2 separate regions of the Homo sapiens genome follow, and region 2 is reported to be linked to region 1. Evidence: microRNA targets listed by miRTarBase, many of them from high-throughput screens and not tested one by one. Region 1 holds a microRNA gene; the other region holds the end of a gene's coding sequence.
The links. Region 1 holds the annotated microRNA hsa-miR-4662b (AAAGAUGGACAAUUGGCUAAAU, at 2,240-2,261, shown strand). A microRNA usually pairs through its seed, bases 2 to 8, with sites in the 3' UTR of a target mRNA and lowers its output. Matches are read on the target gene's strand: a 7mer-m8 pairs with bases 2 to 8, a 7mer-A1 pairs with bases 2 to 7 and ends in A, and an 8mer does both.

Region 1 (3,556 bases):
TAGAATCACTGAGTGTTACTGGCAGGGACCTTTAAAAGTATCTAATCTAATGGTCTTTTTAAAAACAATGAAACTGAGAACCTGCAAAGGCATGTGACTAGCCTCGATGAGAAAGTGGCCCAACTGGGGCTTGAGCCCAGGTCTCCCGCCCTCCATGCTGGTGTGCCTTGGTAGGAGTGTGGACCTGAACTACAACAGGTCATTCACCCAGGCCCCCAGCTCTCCATCCCACAAATGGGCAGGGAAAGGCAGGGAGGTATAAAACACCGGCTTCCTACCTTCTGCTTCGATCCACAGAGAAGACTTAGGCCAGAGTGGCCCTGCACGTCCGCCTTTCCCCTCTCAGGGAGTCCCTCTTTCTGGGTTTGAGTCTTGCCAGTCCGAAACACGTGCGAATAGAATCCCAAAAGCACAGGGCCCAGGCTTTTTTCTGGGCGATGTGCTGTTTTTTTTTTTATATCTCAGACTATGGCTGTTACTGTCCATGGGCTCAACTAATGCAGAGAATTGTAGGACATCTAGCCCTGCTCCTAAAGGAGGCAAAATGATCCTTATCATGCCTGTTATAGCCAAGGAAGGCTGGACCCAATTCCACAGAACTCGAGATGGCGCTTTTCATTTCAAAGAAAAGACACTATGAGCCTTTCTCATATTTCACAGCATGCTGTGTGTTGCACTTGACCTCTACTCTTGCCCTCAGCTTCCCCAGGTGGCCTCGCCTCCCTGCTGCAGCCCCAAAGCAGTAAAGCTACAGCTCTGGGCCATGGGCTGTGGCTTCAGTGATCTAGGACCTGATTCTCCTAAAAACCACAAATGGATAGTTCTTCCAAAGACCCAGGGTCCTCATAGAACTCTCTAGAAACAGTAATGATCTCCTTGGAGCTCAAACAGTCCCTGAGCTATCAGACCCTGCCAACACCAGGGCTTAATGCTCAGGGAACACATTTTATGAGAGCAACTGTCACTCCTGAGCTTCTGTGGGTCACTTGAAATCACCCAGTTATTTTTCACTCAGCTGAGGGGCAGTATAGTTCTGACGGGTGGCTTTGGGTTCACTGCCTTCAACTCCAGTCAGAAAACGTTAGTGCTGAAATGGATCCGGGGTACAAATAGTTGGGTTGTTGACATGCTTTCTTCTGTTGTATACATAAAGGTTCCACATACAAAAACCTATTTGCAAAGAGAGGTCAGATGCTTAAATGTGAATAATAAAAATGCTTATCCATGGGTACTCTAGTTTAATCTCCTCATTACAAGAGGAATCTGAGGCCCAGAGAGAGAAAGTGACTTGTCCAAAATCATACAACTAATATTGCAGCCAGCAATAGAACAAAGAGAGCTCAGGAATTCTGGGTCCCAGTGACTATGGAAAACAATTGTCTGAAATTTTACCACTAGAAATTGCTACTCCCTGCCCCATACTACCTGAGTCTTATTTAGGTAAACAGATAGTAAATATAAACATTATCATTGTAAAAAAATGTTTTAAAGACCAAATATATTTATAAAGTTTTTTAAAGTGATCTTTTGTACCCCTTTGTACTCTACCCAATCCCATTCATTTCCCGAAGGATGTCCGATGTTAACAAATGAGTGTCAAGTCCTTCTAGGCCTTTTTCTATGCACTTAGGAATGTGTTTACAATATATGACTGGGTTTTAAAAATACATACTTATATACTATATGTATGTAGATATAAGTATAAATTTATAAGCCATATTTATATATTATGCCATTTATAAATATAAAATCAAATTGTTCTGTTTTGAGACTTCCTTTGTTCACCTAACCTTGTGTCTTGGCACTTTTTCTCTCTCTTTTTTTTTTCTTTTTGAGATTTTGCTCTTGTTGCCCAGGCTGGAGTGCAATGGCACAATCTCAGCTCACTGCAACCTCCACCTCCCAGATTCAAGCGATTCTCCTGCCTCAGACTCCTGAGTAGCTGGGATTACAGGTGCCTGCCTCCATGCCCACCTAATTTTTGTATTTTTAGTAGAGACAGGGTTTCGCCATGTTGGCCAGGCTAGTCTCAAACTCCTGACCTCAGGTGATATAACCATCTTGGCCTCCCAAAGTGCTGGGATTACAGGTGTGAGCCACCGTGCCCATCCATGGCACTCTTTCCATGTTGGTCAATAGAATCTTGATGTTTTGTCGATGGCTTCATGGTATTCCATTGTATGGATGTACCACAATTTCTATTTAGCCAATTGTCTATCTTTAGGCATTCAGAATAGCTAAAGATGGACAATTGGCTAAATAGACACTGTGGTACACAATGGCTTTTTCTGTTGCAGCCATGGTTGCAGTAAACTTCCTTGTATATAAATCTCTGGGACATGAGCCAATGTTTCTTCAGAAGAGATACCTAGAAGTGAAGATGTGAGATCATTTGTCTACAGAAGGTTTCACTTTAAGTTGTAATGACTCGCCTTAATGTTGTCCAAAGGTTGTTTTTCTAAACCTTATTTGAGGGCCCACAACAGCCATAAACTTTTACTTATGTTTCACCTAGAATCATCACAGCAATCCTGTGAAAGCAAAGTATGATCCCTATTTTTCAAAAAAACTCACTGAAGTAGGAACAGACGAAAAATATCTCAATTTGTGAAAAAGCATTTACAAAAAAAAAAAAACATCTAACATCATACTTAATGGTGCCAACTGAACGTCTTCCCACTGAGATTGGGAATAAGACAAAGATGTCTGCTTTCAACATCTTCTTCAACAGGGTAGTAGAAGTTCTAGCCAGTGCAATATAGCAAGAAAAAGAAATACAAGACATACAGATTGAAAAGAAAGAAATAAAATCATCTCTATTTGCAGATAACATGATTGTCTATTTATACAATCCTAAAGAATCTAAAAAACATAAACTAAAATAAACCTCCTAGAATTAATAAGTGAATTAAGTAAGGTCACAGAATACATGATCAACACTCAAAAATCAAATGCATTTGTTTATCCTGTCAATGAACATGGGGAAACTGAAATTAAAAACAATACCATTTACAATCACTTCAAAGAAAATAAAATACTTAGGTATAAATACATATACTATGTCTCTGATGAAAATTACAAAATGCTGATGAAAAAATAAAGACCTACATAAATGAGGAGAAATACCATGTTCATAGACTGGAAGACTCATCATAGTGGAGATGTCAATTCTTCCCAAATTATCAATAGTTTAACACAATTCTTATCAAAATCCCAAAAAGATTTTGTAGACAAAGCCAAGCTTATTCTAAAATTTGTATGGGAGGCAAAAATTTTGAAAATAAAATAGCTGTGATAACTATTTTAAAAAGTAGGAGGAAGCACTCTACCTTGTGTTAAGTCTCACTATATAGCTACAGTTGCCAAGGTAGTATGATATTGGTGGAGAGATAAACCCACAAATCAATGAAACAGAATAGAGGACTCAGAAATAGACCCACAAAAATATACTCAACTGATTTTTTACCAAAAATACCAAAAGTGCAAAAGCGAGTGAATGAAGGAAGGAAACTCTTTTCAACAAGTGGTGTTGGAGCAAAAAACAAAACAAAACAAA
Region 2 (3,227 bases), not on the chromosome of region 1:
TTCATTGATGGCAACGGGAGGACCTCCCGTCTGCTCATGAACCTCATCCTCATGCAGGCGGGCTACCCGCCCATCACCATCCGCAAGGAGCAGCGGTCCGACTACTACCACGTGTTGGAAGCTGCCAACGAGGGCGACGTGAGGCCTTTCATTCGCTTCATCGCCAAGTGTACTGAGACCACCCTGGACACCCTGCTTTTTGCCACAACTGAGTACTCGGTGGCACTGCCAGAAGCCCAACCCAACCACTCTGGGTTCAAGGAGACGCTTCCTGTGAAGCCCTAACCCTAGAAATCCTCAGTGACAAAGGCTGTCCTGAGGTAGGAAAAAAAAAAAGAAACAGCATTTCTAGAAACCTAGTCACTTCCTAAAGCAAAAGGAGAAACATTCTTTACCTCCAAATGTTTTAGTTTTAAAAAAAAAAAAAAACTAAGTTATGAAGCCTTGTCTCTAAAATAACTTATAATTCAACCAAGCTATTTATTTTCTTCTTTGGAGCAAGCTAGTCAGTATTGTATGGTGTCTGCTGTGTCTTGCTGGTGGCCGTGCTTTAGGGGCAACAGTGCCACCATGTGACCAGAACAAAGGTTCTGGAGCAGAATTTGCACTAAGGTGGAGGAGCGGCCAAGAGGTGTGGGACGGGGCCCAGAGCCACTGACATAACTCCTCCAAGTGCTTCTCTGAAACAGGCTGAGAGGTTCTGTGACTGCAACTGGGAAGTCAGACCCAAGTCGCAGCTGAGAGAAATGGTTGAAAGCTCACTTTCTCAAGGTTTAGATTAGTGGTGACTAACTTCCAAGCAAACTTCATAGAAGAGAAAATGAATGCCGACATTCCTTACTTACCTGCAGGAAGACTTTTTGAGCCATAGTTTGCAAACTTTAGTGCCAGCAGCTGTTTTTTTTTTTTTTTTTTTCATATTGAGACTATTTTTCTAATTAAGAATAGGGGGTAGCCATAAAGAGCTGTATGTTGGAGGGGGAAACATGGTGGGCGGGCAGTTTGGTTTTCTTTGTGTATCCGCGTTTCTCTCACACTTCATTTGTAGCAACTCAGGCCAGATGTTTTCGTCTGAAATTCTCTGGGCTTGTCATTCCACCTGTATCGTGCTGCAAACCAGGTGTTATGCTAGTAGGCATCTGCCCTCACCCCTCTGCCTGAGTTTTCTGTAGGCAGATGTTAACCTGAGAAAACAAGTGCCATGTGGACACCAAGTAAGCATTTTTGATAATGAATTAGAGCACCAGTTTCTACTGAATGGAGCAAAAACCTTCAGCCATGGCCAGGCTGCATCCCTTTGGTCCTGGAGTTTCATCTACTTACTGCCATCTTCCACGGTCTTTGCACTGTCCCGTGTCCCATCCCCCTGGGAGGCAGAAGAGATTGCCTCGGAGTGGCCTTATTTTTCTCGCAACTTGTGAAATGATGTAGTGCTCTATGTAATATGGCCGGGTTTCCAAGCTGTCATCCAATGGAAGTAGAATCTTCTCTTTGAATCATATGGTACAGGTGCCAATATGACTGCTGCTATTTAGAGTCAGAGAGGTGGAAGTCACTGGGTCCCTTTCCCAGTGACAGAGCCCATGATGTCTAACACTACTGCACTTTGTCAGTGTGTGAGTGATGGCGAATACGCAGTGTTGTCTCTTTGATTTGGTAATTCCGTTCCTGACAGTAATGAGGCCACTGCTCTAAAGTAGTTTATACAGTTCTTCAGTTGTATAAATAGCACAGAGTAGTTTTTGAAAGGTTAAGAAAAATAAGTGAAAAGACATACACGATATATGAAATGGCTCCAAATGATAATTGTTCAAACCTTTATAAAATGTGTTTTCGTACTCTTATGCTGCCAGAGGTACTTCTTAAAACTCTTCTCGTCTTGGTTTTATAAGCACACCACGGAGGTCTGACAGATGTGCTTGCTTCTACTACAGAGCAAGAGAATTTGCACTTTAGCTATATGTGAAGGATATTATTTTAACAAATTCCTGATTCTAATAAAGTTATTTTATTACATGAATGCTTGAGACTGTCTTATTTGGGAGATGTTCCCATCTGTCATAAGGGCAGTGGGGGTATTCTGACCTTTAGCCCTATTCATAATACTGTTCTGGGAGAGCAACAGATCCAAGATGGTGATTTCCATGGGCAAGAGACCCAGAAGTTGGATAAACCGCCTACCTAGGTGGGCAAGGATGAATTACTGATTTTTTTTTACTAACAAACAGTCAAGTAACTGAAGTAGTTTTTCACATTTCTATTTATCATCAGTTCTGGATTTTCTGGGGAAAACACACAAACCCACTCATGTAGTCCTGGAAATCCATTTCTAGAACAGTCAACACCCGGAACCTAACTGGGTTCTGCTCAAGCCTGAAAAGGTTTGCCCCTGTACCAAGCCTGGGCTGACATCTGCAAGTGTGACATTAAGGTCAGAATACTGGCTGCAGGCAAAGCCAAACCGTTAATGTGAAGCAGCAAAAAGTAAGGCCACACTCACCCATAGTGATATTCAGGGCTCTTCATGTGTCAGGTCCCCAACCATGAGGGCTCTGAGCTACCCAAATCATCACACCAGCTGAACAGTCCATCAGCCTTCCAAGCAGCATCACAGAGAACACTGCAGGAGGAACGCGTGGGACAGCAAAGGTTCTTGCTGCTGTCAATAGCCGCCGCTTGAATTTAATTCAGAAGTAAAGCCTAGTAAAAAGTTGGTTTTGTATAAAAAAGAGATGGAGGGGAACCTACCTTTTAAGACTTAAGAGGCTTACCAACCAATAATTTACAGGGAGGAGAGCTGATATTTGTAGGAAGGTGGAAATTTGAGTGGACAGTTGATGACATGAAGGGATTACCACTAATGTTTCTAGGAGTGAAGGCCTTTCAGTCCTCCTGAGACACCTGCCGCAACATTACTGGATGAGCACAATGACATCTGGAACGTGCCTCAATATAACAGAGGGTGGAGGGGAAACAGACATGAAGGAAGAGGGGCTGGGAGTTGAGGAATGCTGGAAGCTGAATGGTAGGCACACAGGAGTTTATTTTACTGTTCTGTCTACTTTTTAATCGGTTATATTAAAAAATGTTAAGTTAAAAAAATATAGAAAACCCGACTGATGCACAAAAACTTAAACTTACGCAACAGATAAATGAGGAGTTGATTCCCACGACATATACAAGGATTCCCTGACGTCTTTCTCCAGAGTGTCTTAATAAAGCAAGCT

Region 2: miRTarBase lists FICD as a target of hsa-miR-4662b. Seed matches in the 3' UTR shown: 7mer-m8 at 1,326-1,332.

Annotation. Positions count from the first base shown.
Region 1 is chr8:124,820,693-124,824,248 of GRCh38, reverse strand. MIR4662B (microRNA 4662b) reads left to right here and starts at 2,191; the gene lies at 2,191-2,271. It overlaps MIR4662A (microRNA 4662a), which reads right to left and starts at 2,264; the gene lies at 2,198-2,264.
Region 2 is chr12:108,519,191-108,522,417 of GRCh38, forward strand. FICD (FIC domain protein adenylyltransferase) reads left to right here. Exons shown (of 3, transcript NM_007076.3): 3 at 1-2,020. The coding sequence ends at 285. SART3 (spliceosome associated factor 3, U4/U6 recycling protein) reads right to left here. Exons shown (of 19, transcript NM_014706.4): 19 at 3,024-3,227. Among named protein-coding and RNA genes, the nearest start is that of FICD, 5.5 kb to the left of the region's middle.